2 separate regions of the Homo sapiens genome follow, and region 1 is linked to region 2. The links come from fine-mapping of genetic effects on gene expression. Tissue or cell type: whole blood. Region 2 holds a variant in brackets; the other region holds the start of a gene. All regions are shown on one strand. Distances are between the middles of the regions.

What was found. PIP is the estimated chance that this variant, and not a neighbour inherited with it, causes the effect.
Region 1: it holds the start of PECR, and the variant in region 2 is fine-mapped to the expression of PECR in whole blood (TOPMed, PIP above 0.99).

The regions. Positions count from the first base shown.
Region 1 is chr2:216,077,689-216,085,688 of GRCh38, reverse strand. PECR (peroxisomal trans-2-enoyl-CoA reductase) reads left to right here and starts at 3,880. Exons shown (of 8, transcript NM_018441.6): 1 at 3,880-4,071. The coding sequence starts at 3,948. TMEM169 (transmembrane protein 169) reads right to left here and starts at 3,770. Exons shown (of 3, transcript NM_001142311.2): 1 at 3,710-3,770. RefSeq lists enhancers at 925-994, 4,119-4,168, 4,199-4,278 and a silencer at 3,669-3,928.
Region 2 is chr2:216,052,977-216,061,240 of GRCh38, reverse strand. It overlaps PECR (peroxisomal trans-2-enoyl-CoA reductase), which reads left to right. Exons shown (of 8, transcript NM_018441.6): 4 at 2,265-2,346. Among named protein-coding and RNA genes, the nearest start is that of PECR, 25 kb to the left of the region's middle. RefSeq lists enhancers at 2,994-3,053, 3,114-3,293. The variant A/G (reference allele first, on the strand shown) is at 3,157.

The sequences.
Region 1 (8,000 bases), 25 kb before region 2:
ATGTTGGTCAGGCTGGTCTCGAACTCCCAACCTCAGGTGATCCGCCCGCCTTGGCCTCCCAAAGTGCTGGGATTACAGGCGTGAGCCACTGCTCCCGGCCCAGATAATTCTTAAATTCATCCACCCAACTTTCCCATCTCCACTGCTTCCCCTCTGGTCTAGGAGGCCACTGTCTCTTAACTGTGGTTCTAAAAAAAATGCTCCTATCTTCCAGCTTCCACTCTTGCTGCCTTCCAATCAATTCCTCACTCAGCAGTAAGCAACATCTTTTACTTAATTTTTTTAATTTTTTGAGACAGAGTCTCACTCTGTCACCCAGGCTGGACTGCAGTGGCACAATCTCAGCTTCCTGCAACCCCCACCTCCCCCACCTGATTCTCCTACCGAGTAGATGAGATTACAGGCGTGTGCCACCACACCCGGCTAATTTTTGTATTTTTAGTAGAGATGGGGTTTCACCTCCCAAAGTGCTGGGATTCCAGGCATGAGCCACCCAGCCAGAAACATCTTTTTAAAACATAAAGAAAATCAGATGGTCAGGCGTGGCAGCGCGCACCTGTCGTCTCAGCTTCTCGGAAGGCTGAGGCAGGAGAATTGTTTGAACCTGGGAGGCAGAGGCTGCAGTGAGCCGAGATCGCTGCCACTGCACTCCAGCCTGGGATACAGAGCCAGACTCCATGTCAAATAAATAAATAAAAATAAAAAAGAAAATCAGGCTGTTTTCTGCTTAAAATCCTCCTGTAACTTCCTACTGTTATACATGTGGAAGTCCATGTGGCCTAAGGACCTCCCCATCCTGCCACCCCATCTGTACCACCATAGTAGGGGTACTATGCTCCAATCACACTGGCTGTGTATTTCTTCCTCAAGAGCACCAAATGCTTCCAAATGCTTGAGGTCTTCTTAACTGCTGTCTATCTTGCTGCTCTGCTGCTCCACCCCGCCTCTTCCTGTGCCCGTTTTTGTTTTTTTGAGTCCTTGTTCAAATGTTTCCTCCTCTGAGCCCTTCTTGACACCCGAACTAAAAACTTGACTCCCTGCTCTGCCTCTCATTATTCTTTATCACAACAGCTTGTTTCCTGTGTAAGGCTTACCAACATTTGTCATTATTTATTTTTCTTTTACTTATTTATTGCATAGCTCTTCTACTAGACTTCAAGCCCTATGAAGTGGTACCATAGAAGTAGGCCAACAAATAGATGCTCGATAAATCTTTTTAAGTGACTGGGTGAAGTGGTAGCAACTCAGGAGTAGCTTATTTTTTGTGAAAGCCTGAGACTAAGGAGAAGTTTAATAAAAAGACATCAATAAGCTCCTTTATATGCCTTGTTATGGCACAATTGCTAGGTAGTTTTGCTTCAAGGTAGGGGCAGGACCAGATGCTTCACTGACATTCTCTCAGCACTGAGATTCTGGGAGTCTAAATGTCGAGAATCCCACAAGCCCCTGTCAGTCTGAGCTAGCAGCTGCTTTGCAGAGGGGAGAAAATAAAGTTACCAGGCAGATGGGGTGGGGGAGGGGTGGGAAGCTGAAGGCAGTCATTGCTAATGGGGTATGACAGAGCTGTGGGGAGAGGTTCGGGGGTGTGGGAGGACCTTGGCCACAGGAATGCCTTTTTCCCCAGGACAAAGAGGGCAGTGACGCAGAGCACAGGGAAGAGCAGCATTTGATTCAACCAAAGGAGTGGTCAGTGCAGCATGGCGTGGTTGCCTTCGGAAGAGATGCCTCAACCAGAGGCAGAACTAAAATTTCAAAACAAAGAGCTTCCAAGCAGCAGATCTATTGCTCTGCTTCCAGGCCTTTTGGCCTGGAACTTAGCGGATTAGTGGACTTTCAAACCCTGACAGAGGTCAGAGGCAGAGGCAAAGAGATCATGCCTCCTAATTTTAAACAAAAGATCGCTTGAAGAGACCCCAAAGCTCTCTTAATTGCAGGTTCTGCCTGGATCATGAAAAATCGCCTTCTGACTGTTCATCCTGCAACTTCCTTGCAGCTGAGGAATGGCACCTTGTCATCCTCAGTAGGCATAACCGGTTTGCAGGCCCCAGTCCCTGTTTCACTGGAAGACATCAGAATCCCACTCTCAGTCCGCTCAGCAGCCACACGGAAGCTGCAGCACAGCCAGCTTCCCACTGACCCACCCTGGCACACCTCTAAGAATCTATAGGTCCAGACCAGGGCATAAATCATGTTAAGTTATATCTTCAATAAAGTTATCATTTAAAAGAATTTAAAGTGTCCCCACCCACAAGAAAGAAAGTCTGGACTTCTCTTGAATAAGATACCCCTCAGAACTGAATCAATATTTCTTTTCCTTAAAAAAAAACACCTTGTCATTGGGATCAAACCAAGAGGAGTTATATGTTTCTGCAACAACACTTTGAGCTTTCCTGTTTGAATTTACTTTGTTTTAAAGGAGGTGATGGCGTTGTAATTTTAAAAATTTGGTCCTAACTACAGAATTGACTTAAGTAGTAGAGTTAAGTGATTCCTGGATAAACTATCTAGCAAATGGTAACCAGGAGATTTATTCCTTTCTTTAACGAGTGTAGATTTGAATCTGTCAGCAACAAAGATAGAGGGAGAAGTGATTCTAAAAAGAGATCAGAGAAGGACAAGAGGATGGAGCAACAGGGAAGTGTAGCTGTCCAACAAGAACTGCAGCCTCGCTGGTGGGTGGGACCTGGTGGAGGAAGTGATGGTCTGATTCCTCTGTCAACCAGACCCATTTCCAATTGGCTTTGTGAATCCTAGGTGGTAGGTCCAACAAAAGGATGATGGCATTTATTTGCCTTTATATTATTTTAATACCTGTCCGGGGAAAATGCAACACTCTGACAACAGCCTTAGAAATAGCATCCCATCTGGATTGTTAAGACCACAGCAACTGGCACATTCGACCAAGTTCTTAGGGTGAAGTCTCAGTAGGCCAGTCCAGGTGTAATCTCACTCTGGTGGGTTCAGAGCGGGAAGCAAGATGAAAAATAAGGAGCAGATCTGAATAATAAATCACTGTTACTGGGCACCATAACACAGACGAGAAATTTTCCCCATCCTCAGCGGGCTCACCCTCCTGCACAAGGAATGAACTACAGGACATGATCTCAAACACCTACAGATGCATCTTGCAGGAAGCGTGCACCCTTCAAGGAAAGATCCTCTTCTGGACTCGCTATGCAGCTCAGCTGAAATGGATCAGGTCTCAAACCTGGTAAAGATGATCTTTCCCCTTGATTCTTGGGTGGGGAGTGGGAGGTGAGACGGAGGTGGGCCTGAGTTTATTTTTTCAAATCGTTTATTCTCTTGGTTCTGTGGAAAACTGCAACCGCATCTCCTCTTCCCCTTCACTCTCTTTCCCGGGCTCCCTCCCGAAGGATGAAAGGATCTGAAAGCCGCATTTCTCCCCCTCAGCTAAGCCTGCCCTTTCTCCCCTTCCCAGCCAGCGGCACACAGCACCTGGAGCCACAGCATCGCCGACGTCCGACCCCGGCAGGCGGGCGCAGCGAGGGCGCCGAGCAGCAGCCTTTCTTTTTCCAGCTGCACTGGAGATTTAATTTTAATTAATCGTGAGAGCTTCAGCCCTGAGGATTGAATTTTTGAAATAGAGCACACCCTGCTTGTTTCTTTCTTCTTCTTTTTTTTTTTTTGCATTTCCCTTCCACCCTCCCCAATGGCATCGAAATTTAAAGAAACGAACGAGCAGTCTCACCCACACCTGCCCAGGGACCGACGCTGGCGGAGGTTGCGGACAGCCGGCGGGGAGCGGTTCTGCTCCGGGAGGATGCGGCTTTGCCGCGGCCGGCGGGCGGGGCGGGGCCGGGCCGGGGAGGGTGCGGGGTTCTGGTGGTCACGTGGGCTCGAGCACCGCCCTGTCCGCCCGCCCGCCTCGAATGTCCCTGAGACCCAGAAGGGCCTGCGCTCAGCTGCTCTGGCACCCCGCTGCAGGGATGGCCTCCTGGGCTAAGGGCAGGAGCTACCTGGCGCCTGGTTTGCTGCAGGGCCAAGTGGCCATCGTCACCGGCGGGGCCACGGGCATCGGAAAAGCCATCGTGAAGGAGCTCCTGGAGCTGGGTACGTGAGCGGGCCGCTGGTGCAGAGAGGTGGCTGTGGTGACCTGGGGTAACCTGGAGACGGGAGCCAGGAGCTCTCGGCGGGGCTGAGGGAGTGTGGAGCTGCAGAGCAAAGACGGGGCAGGTGTGGGCGAAATTACGACCACCAGGGAGACAGAAGAGAGCAGCTCTTCCTAAGGAATTGTGGAGCCACTCGTTAAAAACTGAAGAGACCACTCAGGCCAAAGAGACTGTGCCCCAGGTAGGCAGTAAGAAGAGCAGTGAAACATGCTGTGCAATTAGTTTTATATTCAGATTTAAAATTAATCCATTCTATATGCTTAATGTGAGTGATTAGGAAACGTGGGAAGACTTCATTTAACTGGAAAAAGTTGTGAACATAGTGAGTCTCTCATAGTATCTTCTCACATCTCTTAACCACAGCAAGGAAATATGCTGAATATTTACCTTAACTTGGGTGAAGGAAGGCCTTTGTAAACACATAAGTGAGGGAATAAACCACAAAGGAGAACATAAATCAATCTACCTGTATGAAAGTGTAAATCCTCATTGAATTAAAAAAATATATAAAGTTTAAAGGCATATGAAGAAAAATATTTGCAACATAAGATAAATTGTTTGTTGGTTTTGAGATAGGGTCTCACTCTGTTGCCTACGCTGGTCTCGAACACCTGGGTTCAAGGGATCCTCCTGCCTTGCCTCTGAGTCCTAAAGTTTTGGGATTACAGGCTGAGCCACTAGATTCGGCCAACAGCCTTATACATAAAGAGCTCTTACAAATAAAGAAAAAATCCAACACACTGATAGAAAAATTAGACTAATGGTATGGACTAAGCGTTCCAAAAGAAGAACTACAGACAGGCAAGAAACATATGAAAAAATAATCAACTTTATTGGTAATAAAATATGAAACAGTAAGATTTAACTTTTCTAACAAAATTTTGAAATGTTGGGAAAAATTAAAGTGTTGATGCAGGAATGAGAAGGCAGGAATGTAAATTATTACAAACTTTCTGGAAGGCAATTTGGAAAAAAAGATCCAAAAACCTTCACAATGTTTATGCTCTATGACAGTAATTCCTTTTTCAGGAATTTAAGGAAACGGAGTCAAGCAAAGATTTTCATGCAAGGATGTAGTCTTGAGTAGTGAAAAAATGGAAATTACCTAAAAATCCAATATAAGGAAAATAGTTAAATCAATAACAATGAAATATAATGCTTCCGTTTAAATATCTTGCTATTGGTCCTGGCGCAGTGGCTCACGCCTGTAATTCCAGCACTTTGAGAGGCCGAGGCGGGCAGATAACCTGAGGTCAGGAGTTTGAGACCAGCCTGGCCAACATGGTGAAACTCCATTTCTACTAAAAATACAAACCAGGCATGGTGGCGTACACCTGTAGTCCCAGCTACTTGGGAGGTTGAGGCGCAAGAATCGCTTGAACCTGGGAGGCAGAGGTTGCAATGAGCTGACGTCAAGCCACTGCACTCCAGCCTGGGCAACAGAGCGAGATTCCATCTCAATAAATAAATAAATATCTTGCTATTGAAGACTTACTTGGAGAAATGCATACCATATTATTGGGAAAAGTAGAATTCTAAACCTAATAGCATTCCAATTTTACTTTTTTTTTTTTTTTGAGATGGAGTTTCGCTCTTGTTGCCCAGGCTGGAGTGCAGTGGCGCCATCTTGGCTCACTGCAACCTCCGCCTCCTGGGTTCAAGCGATTCTCCTGCCTCAGCCTCCCGAGTAGTTGGGATTACAGGCACGCACTACCTTGCTAGGCTAATTTTGTATTTTTAGTAGAGATGGGGTTTCTATATGTTGGTCAGGCTGGTCTCCAACTCCCGACCTCAGGTGATCCGCCCGCCTCGGCCTCCCAAAGTACTGGGATTACAGGCGTAAGCCACCGTGCCCGGCCCAATTTTACTTTTAATAAAATATATACATGCAGGGCCGGGCACGGTGGCTCATGCCTGTAATCCCAGCACTTTGGGAGGCCGAGGCGGGCAGAGCACAAGGTCAAGAGTTCGAGACTAGCCTGGGAAAACATGGTGAAACCTCGTCTCTACTAAGAATACAAAAATTAGCCAGGCATGGTGGCGTGTGCCTGTAATCCCAGCTACTCAGGAGGCTGAGGCAGGAGAATGGCGTGAACCCGGGAGGCAGAGGTTTCAGTGAGCCAAGATCGTGCCGCTGCACTCCAGCCTGGGCGACAGAGCAAGACTCAGTATCAAAAAAAAAAAAAAGTATTACATATGCAAAAATGGACTGGAAGGAAGTTTATAAGATTTTTAGCCATTTTTCTGAAAATAATGTTAATTATGAGTAATTAAAATTGTCTTCGTCTTTTAAATATTTTTTAATGAACATCTAAATTATCTTTGGTTACGACTGTGTTTCCAACATCTGGCACAGTATGAACTAAAAAAAAAAAATCTATGTTTTTAGTTAAAAAAAAAAAAAAAAGCAAAAACATTTCCTAGTAAGGCCATGATGTAACCTCATCACCATTACTGCCCAGTTTATTCTCAACACCAAGCTCTATCCTCTTTCAGGAATATCTGTAAGAAAATCAGAATCAGTTATCAATTCATGCATAGGTCAGATACTAGGCTTCTCAGCAGATTCGTAGGACCCTAGTCCACTTTGAAGGATTTTTAATAGATTTTTATGTATTTGAACTTTCATCCTGTTGCATAAGTGTGCTATTTGAACTTTCATCCTGTTGCATAAGTGTGCTATTTGAACTTTCATCCTGTTGCATAAATATGCATTGGCCAAAAACTACACCCCTGGAATAAGGTGATAGACTATATTTTTCTTACCACAAACTAAAACATTAGGACATTGGTCTTGTAATCTTTTGGAAGACATGAATCTGTCTGAGATTCTGATGAAAGTGGTGGCGTGTCTTTTGAGAAAAAGACATCATATACTTAAAAATATATATACACAATTATTTTGTTGTATTGGAAATGGATTTCCTTCAGTGAAAGAATATTAAAAATCTTTTTCTTTTTTTTTTTTTTTGAGATGGAGTTTCGCTCTGTCGCCCAGGCTGGAGTACAGTGGCGCAATCTCGGCTCACTGCAACCTCCACCTCCCAGGTTCAAGCAATTCTCTGCCTCAGCCTCCTGAGCAGTATTTTTAATAGAGACGGGGTTTTACCACGTTGGCCAGGCTGGTCTTGAACTCCTGACCTTATGATCCATCCCCCTTGACCTCCCAAAGTGCTGTGAGCCACCGGGCCTGGCCATAAAAATCATTTTTATAATTACTTTTTCCTCTTTATTTTTTTATGCCAGAATCAATGGCTATTTCCACGACATTGTCATATTTTTACTAGAGATGGGGTTTTGGCATGTTGGCCAGGCTGGTCTTGAACTCGGACCTCCAGTGATCTGCCCGCCTCAGCCTCCCTAAGTGCTAGGATTACAGGCATGGAGGCCCCGCGCCTAGCCTCCAGTTTTCTTTCTAGTCAGAAGGCCACTGTTTTTTGTTTTTGGTTTTGGTTTTTTGGTGTGAACTATGTCTTTTTGGCATGAACTTTGAGGCATGGTTTTTAAAATGATGATATTTTTGCTTTTTTTTTTTTTTAACGAAAAATACAGGTGTTTTCTTTTTTACTTCATACTATGCCAGATGGTAACCAAAGATAATTTAGATGTTCATTAAAAAATATTTAAAAGACGAAGACAATTTTAATTACTCATAATTAACATTATTTTCAGAAAAATGGCTAAAAATCTTACAAACTTCCTTCCAGTCCATTTTTGCATGTATAATCCATATTTTTTTTTTTTTTTTTTTTGAGACGGAGTCTTGCTCTGTAGCCCAGGCTGGAGTACAGTGGCACGATCTTGGCTCACTGCAACCTCTGCCTCCCAGGTTCAAGCGATTCTTCTGCCTCAGCCTCCTGAGTAGCTGGG
Region 2 (8,264 bases):
CCCTGGGCTCAATCGATTCTTCCACCTCCTGAGTAGCTGGAGGTACAGGTGCATACTAGGCTACTAACCACCATGCTCAGCTAATTTTTTTTTTTTTTTTTTTTTTTTTTTGGTAGAGCCGGGGTCTCCCCTTGTTGCCGAGGCTGGTCTCAAACTCCTGGGCTGAAGCCATCCATCCGCCTCTGCCTCTCAAAGTGCTGGGATATAGGTGTGAGGCACTGCTCCCGGCTCATTCCATTTTTGATTCTTGCCCGATTCAGTTTCAGAATTGGAAGATGCAAAATGATGATTTTAAAAATTTATGCCTTATTTATTTATTAATTGGCATTCTTTTATAAAGATGAGTTTTTCCTTTTTTTCTCACCTCCTAAGCCTTACTATTGATGAATGGAATTTATTTTTATTCAGTATTTCTAACCCATTATTGTCATTTTCTCTCTGATGTTCTAGTTGACCAGCTAATCTGGCTTCTGTGTCTTTTTGAAATGGCTCAGACCTGTTTCTCCAAGAAGACCTAGTTCCCTTTAGTAGGTAATAATAATTATTGTTTGCTTATTTATTTATTTACTTTTTGGAGAGAGAGTCTTGCTCTGTCACCCAGGCTGGAGAGTAGTGGTTCAAGGCTGCATAGCCCACTGCAACCTTGAACTCCTGGGGTCAAGCAATCCTCCCCGCTTCAGCCTACCGAGCAGCTGCTACTATAGGCACATGACACCATGCCAGGCTAATTTTTTAATTTTTCATAGAGACAGAGTTTTTCTCTGTTGCCCAGGCTGGTCTTGAACTCCTGGCCTTAAGTGATCCTCTCACCTTGACCTGCCAAAGTGCTGGGATTACGGGTGTGAGCCACCACTCCTAGCCGGGAATGATTTTTAGAAGGCGAGATTTGGGTACTACATGTGTTCACTACTACTGGGTTATCATTACTTGTAGACATTTTCAGAACTAGGAAATAAATAAATATATGTATATGGTGGTATTTATCCAGAAGCGGAAGGTGTGTGTAGAATAATTTAAATGGTTATTCTCCTTTCTTGTGCTAAAATCAAATGGTTTTATATGTTTTCATATATTTTTCATATATGTTTTCAAGCATATATAAATAATAAAATATTTAACAATGAGGTTAACAAAAAAGTGTAAGACTTGTATGCCACAAACTGCCAGACATTGCTGAGAGAAATCAAAGAAGATTTAAATAATGTAAAAATATTCAGTGTTTATGGGTTAGAAGGTCCAATATTGTTAATGTGTTAGTTCTTCCCAAATTGATCTGTAGATTCAGAGCAATCCCTGTCAATTTTTGTAGAAATTAACAAACTGATCCTAAACTACATATGGAGATGCAGAGGGCCCAGAATAGCCAAAACAATTTTGCAAAAGAAGAAAGTTGGAGGACTTAATGCTTCTTGATTGCAAAGCTATTTCTTGATTTTAAGACAGTGTGGTACTGACATAGGCTAGATATATAGATCAACATGATTATAGTCATTAGGGAAATGCAAATAAAAACTCCAGTGTGATACCACTTCACACCCACTAGATGGCTATTATCAAAAAATCAGACAGCAGTGGCGTGTAGAAACTACATCCCCCATGCATTTCTGAGAACAATGTAAAATGGGGAGGGACACTTTGGAAAACCATTTGGCAGTTTCTTTAAAAGCTAAACAGAGTTAACATATGACCACACAAAGATTTGTATTCATAATTGCTCCAAAGTGGAACTATCCAAATGTTTATCAGCTGATAAGTGGATAAATAAAACATGGCATATCCACATAATGGAATACTACTCGGCAATCAAAAAGGAACTATTAACACATTACAACGTGGATGAACCTCACAAACATGATTCTAAGTGGAAGAAGTTAGACACAAAAGACCACGTATTGTGTGATTCACTTTACATTAGATTTTCGAAAAGGTAAAGGCAAATCTAGAGAAACAGAAAGATGAGTGTTTACCTGGGGATGGGTTAAGCTGCAGATGGGTGTGAAGGAACTTTTTGGGGTGATGGAAAGGTTCTCAAGCTGGATTGTGGTAATGGTTGCATAACTCCGTATATTTATTAAAAGTCATTACATTGCACACTTAAAGTAGATGAATTTTATGATGTATAAATTTTACCTCAGTCAGGCTTTTTATAAGGAAATGTAAATGGACGTGTAAAACATATCAAACAGGCAGTGTGCTGAAACAAGGTATCAGGAGGGCCAGGATACTTTAAAAATTTAATGATTGAGTTTGCCTCTATCCTGCAGTTTACAGCTCCTGGATGAAAGAGCATGGAGGATCTATCGTCAATATCATTGTCCCTACTAAAGCTGGATTTCCATTAGCTGTGTAAGCGTTTTTATATAGTTTTCTTTCTAAGTCTTTGAGTTTTGTCTTCTGATTGGGGGAAGCATGTTAGGGAACATTTCTTAAATCAAGATCATTAATACCTTTAATGAGCTGTGATTCTAACAGTTAACATTTTATTTTATTTGAACTTAAAATTCAAAGTACTTCTAAAACATTTTCATCCAGATGCGGACTGCCAGATTTACCAAGGAAAGGGAAAATAGTATTTGTTTTTTGTCTGATGTTCAGATTAAACTGGATGTCTTGTGTTTTCTTGGGCAACTCTAATCCCGATGTGACTAAACTGGCCATCACTGTCTAGGAATAGCTTATTTGTTAAAGTATAGAAATGAAACTAATCTGTGTTAATTTAGATTTGAATACCATTAATATAGCTACTTGATTTTACACAGGACTGCTAAGTTGTTCCTCCTAACAGATAATCCAGGATTTTTTCTCCAAAAGTTTCTAAGGTTTTGTGCCTCTGATTAGCCACTCTGTACACAGACAGCATGCCTCCTTTATGCAAATTTTAGTACCCTGCTCATTTCCTGGATTATGCAGAACTCCCAAACATGTATAGGATAAAAATAAAATTCAACTTGGCTTAAGTAAAAATCTAGGGCAGTGGTTCTCCAAAAGTGGCTTCCAGACCAGCCACATCCCCATCACTTGGGAGAAGTTGTTAGCACAGCAAATTATCCAGCCCCACACCAGATCTGCTGCAAGAGAAACTCTGGGGGCAGAGCGCAGCCGTCGTGCAAGCCCTGGAGGGGATCCTGGTACCTGCAGAGCCACTGCGGAAAGGGC[A/G]TGTTAGGTTCAGCCACAATGTTAGCAGGAAGCTGCCTCTCCTTTTGGTTTTGCTTTCTTCATGTCTGCGTACATTCTCAGGCAGGCTGTCTCTAGGTGTGGCAAAAGGCGAGTACTAGCAAGAGTTACAGGTCAACACTCTAGCTGTTCTTAACTCTCCAGTGAGAGAGTGCCTCTCAAGTCATGCCAGCAAAAACAATATTAATGGTGCCAGCAGGTCCCAGAGAGGATACTCATTAACTGACCCTGCCTGGTTATGTGTTCAGTCATTAACCAAAAACTGTAGAAATGAGGTTGCTCTGCTATGCATGGTCAGCCTGAGGAATGAGGAACTGTGGTCATCATCGCTCAGACATGGACTGAGAACAGGCAAGAGGTACTTCCTCAAGTGGAAATCAATGTGATGTTACTAAAAACAGAGTAAAAAATGGTGTGCAGGCCATTGATACCACTCTACCTTCTTTTCCTGCTCATTATTCTTTACTAAATGTATTTACCTATTTTAGCATCTTGGAAGAAATAATTCAGATTGTAGGTTCTTTCTGGCATTTCCCATCCTCACAGGCAACTAGTGTTAATAGTTTTGGGGGCATATCTTTTTCCTACATTTTAACCACAAATTTAGGATGCTATAAACACTATTCTGTATCTTGATGTTCTCAAATGAAGCAAATATCCTGGAGATATTTTCTTAACAGAGTCTAAAGAGATTTCTTCTTATTTTTTTATGGCTAATATGCCACTTTTATAAACCATAAGTAAGGAATGATTTGTGTAACCATTTTCCAGTTGGTGAGCATTTGGGTTGTTTCCAACCTTTTGTTATTACCAAAACCAAACTAAACACCTGCAGTAAGTAACATTTTCTGTACATCAGATAGTGTGTAGCCTAAATTGCAAGAGGTATAATTGCTAAGTCCAAAGCCAAATGCCTTTGTAATTTTAAGAGATATTGCCAAACTGCCCTTTAGAAAAGTTGTAGTTCCTTTATGAGTGAAATGTGTCCTCTTTCATGCATATGTAAGAAGTAATGAGAGTTTCTTTTCTTAAAATACATTTTTGAAATGAAATCACTGGCTTTTCTGATATTCGGTTGGCTAGAAAAAAAACACAGCTTGTCTTTAACATGGAAAAGAAGTGTTTCAGATACTTCTTGCTTTTGTTCTCTTAAGAATCGTTTCCTTTTCCAGTGGCCTTCACACTTTGGACCATGACTCATAGTAAGAAATTTTACATCTTGACCTAGTAAACACATATGTGTATATGTGTCTATAGGCAAAACAAAATTCGTGAAGCAAACATTCTTACTATGTATTGTGCACTCTGATTTTTCTTTCTTTCCTTTTTTTTTTTTTTTTTTTCTGAGATGGAGTTTTGCTCCTGTTGCCCAGGCTGAAGTGCAATGGGGCGATCTTGGCTCACTGCAACCTCTGCCTCCTGGGTTCAAGTGATTCTTATGCCTCAGCCTCCTGAGTAGCTGGGGTTGTAGGCACCCACCACCACGTCCAGTAGTTTTTTGTATTTTTAGTAGAGACGGGGTTTCACCATGTTGGTCAGGCTGGTCTCGAACTCCTGACCTCAGGTGATCCACCTGCCTCAGCCTCCCAAAGTGCTGGGATTACAGGCATGAGCCACCACACCCGGCTGATATTTTCAATTTTATTGTGGTCTACTCTGTTGTATTTTCTTTTTTTACACTTGCTGCTTATTACTTGCTAATTTTATTTCACTATTAGCATTGTGTTGTAATTTACAATTTGAAAGACATGGCTTTAGGTATCCTCTACAATAGAAGAGGAGGATGAATGTCAGAGATTGAGCACTCCTTTTTTTTAAATTTTAGCTCTCTTAAGAGACAAATTGAAACTGTTGGCTGTCGCTTGTTTACTTGACCAGTACAGGTACATGTGCAAGATACATCTGGAAATACTAAAATGAATCAGATACCATCCACACTCTGAGGGAGTCTACAACTAGTAGGGGAGCAAAGCATGAAAATAATCAGCTAGAGAGAGAAGGTGTTGGATATTCCAGTAAAGGTATTTGCAAGTGTGCAAGATAAAAGGAGCACAGAGGAGGGCAGCATCCAGGCGACATGTCTCAAAGGTGAACTCGAGTTTGGTGACATATGAGGAGGAGAAAGGAAGGCAAGTCAATGAGACATTTACTGTGTAAAGACACAGAAATTTGAGACACTGTGGCACTTTTGGGAACTACAAATAATTCTTTGTGATGATGGGTGGTACGGCTAAATGGAAATTAATACCTTGGAATGGAGTGGGAGTCACAAAAGGCCTTAACTACCAGGGAGAGGAGTTTGAAGTGCATCAGGGGTTCCTACACTAGAGCCTGTGGCCCTGGGGCTCTGGGGCTGTGCATCCAGGAGGGCGCTTAAATCTGCAGGGTTATCACAACTAAGGCATTTCTTTGGAGGATCTTTTTACTCTTAATGGTTGAGAAGGAAAACATTTATATTCAAGTATGTATTACAAAGAAAAGCTCAAGAATGATGAGGATTTGGGAGTCATAGTTTGGGGGAGCATTATCTAGTTGTCCTTTTTTGGGAATATTTATGTACTAGGTTTAGTCCTATTACAAGTGTTTTTTTTTGTTTGTTTGTTTTTTTGTTTTTTTGTTTTTTTTTTTTGAGATGGAATTTTGTTCTTGTTGCCCAGGCTGGAGTGCAATGGCACTATCGCAGCTCACCACAACCTCCGCCTCCTGGGTTCAGGCGATTCTCCTGCCTCAGCTTCCTGAGTAGCTGGGATTACAGGCATGCGTCACCATGCCCGGCTAATTTAGTATTTTTAATAGAGACGGGGTTTCTCTGTGTTGCTCAGGGTGGTCTCGAACCCCCGACCTCAGGTGATGTGCCCACCTTGGCCTCTCAATGTGCTGAGATTACAGGCGTGAGCCACTGTGCCTGGCCTACAAGTTGTTTTTACATTAAGTGTCTTTTTTTTTTTTTTTTGTAAGACACAGTCTCGCTCTATCACCCAGGCTGGAGTGCAGTGGTGCAATTTCTGCTCACTGCAGCCTCCGCCTCCCGGGTTCAAGCAATTCTCCTGACTCAGCCTCCCATGTAGCTGGGATTACAGGTGCACGCCACTATGCCCGGCTAACTTTTTGTATTTTTAGTAGTGACGGGGTTTCACTGTGCTGGCCAGGCTGGTCTTGAACTCCTGACCTTGTGATCCGCCTGCCTCGGCCTCCCAGAGTGCTGGGATTACAGGCGTGAGCCACCACGCCTGGCCTACATTAAGTATCTTTGAATAACCCCAAATTCATTTTTTAACTAATGACCAATTTACAACATCTATGACTGTAGAATTTGGAATAACTTGTGAAGTTCACCGTAATGGAATTTGACATATTTGACTCATATTCTGATTTTGATTAATTTTTCCATGGGCAATAGATATTTATTTTTTCAGAAAAGAAGTCAGTGGGGCTGGATGCAGTGGCTCACGCCTGTAATCCCAGCACTTTGGGAGGCTGAGGTGGGTAGATCACCTGAGGTCAGGAGTTCGAGACCAGCATGGGCAACATGGTGAAACCCCATCTCTACTAAAAATACAAAATTTAGCTAGGTGTGGTGTCACACACCTGTAATCTTAGCTACTCGGGGGGCTGAGGTATGAGAATCACTTGAATCTGGGAGGTAGAGGTTGGAGTGAGACTCTGTACCCCCTCCAAAAAAAAAAAAAAAAAAAGAAAGAAAAAAGAACTTAGTGACCTTATTTAACCTACTATCTCAGTTATTTCCTACTTTTCTTTTTTTTTTTTCTTTTTTTTTTGAGATGGAGTTTCACTCTTGTTGCCCAAGTTGGAGTGCAATGGTGCGATCTCGGCTCACTGCAACCTCCACCTCCTGGGTTCCAGTGATTCTCCTGTCTCAGCCTCCTGAGTAGCTGGGATTACAGGCACCTGCCACCATGCCCAGCTAAAATTTTTGTATTTTTAGTAGAAACGGGGTTTCACCATGTTGGCCAGGCTGGTCTCGAACTCCTGACCTCATGTGATCCACCTGCCTCAACCTCCCAAAGTGCTGGGATTACAGGCATGAGCCACTGCACCCAGCCTATCTCAGTCATTTCTTTCATAAGAGTCTAAAGGTCATCCAAATAGAACTGGGAGAAAAACAATACACCAGGAAGTAACTTGAAAAACACAAGTTTACCAGTTGAAAAGTGTGGATTAAAAAAATATATATTTTTGCTGATTTCTTTAGTATCTTTTCAACATTCTGATTCCTTCCATTTTTTAGGGAAGCTAGAGATTGCATTTTTAAGAGGCAATAGAGAAGGTCTTTTTCTACAACCTTAGATAACAGGCACTGAAAAAGAAAAATTACACAAATATAGGTTGAGCATCCTGATCTGAAAACTCAAAATCCAGAATGCTCCAAAATCTGAAAATTTTTGAGCACCAATAGGATGCTCAAAGGAAATGCTTTTTGGAGCATTTCAGATTTTGGATTTTCAGATTAGGGATGCTAAACCAGGTAGTATATGCAAATATTCCAAAATCTGAACAGATTTGGCCAGGCCCGGTGGCTCACGTCTGTAATCCCAGCACTTTGGGAGGCCGAGGCAGGCAGATCACGAGGTCAGGAGATCGAGACCATCCTGGCTAACACGGTGAAACCCCCGTCTCTACTAAAAATACAAAAAACTAGCTGGGCACGGTGGCGGGTGCCTGTAGTCCCAGCTACTCGGGAGGCTGAGGCAGGAGAATGGCGTGAACCCAGGAGGTGGAGCTTGCAGTGAGCCGAGATCATGCCACTGCACTCCAGCCTGGGTGACAGAGTGAGACTCCCATCTCAAAACAAAACAAAACAAAACAAAATCAGAACAGATTTGAAATCCAAAGCACTTCTGGTTCCAAGCATTTTGAATAAGGCATACTCAATTTGTAAAATGTTCAGTTGAGGCTGGGTGTGCTGGATCATGCCTGTAATCCCAGCACTTTGGGAGGCTGAGGCGGGCAGATCATCTGAGGTCAGGAGTTTGAGACCAGCCTGGCCAACATGCTGAAACCCCATCTCTACTAAAAATACAAAAATTAGCCAGGCGTGATGGCGCACTCCTATAAACCCAGCTATTCGG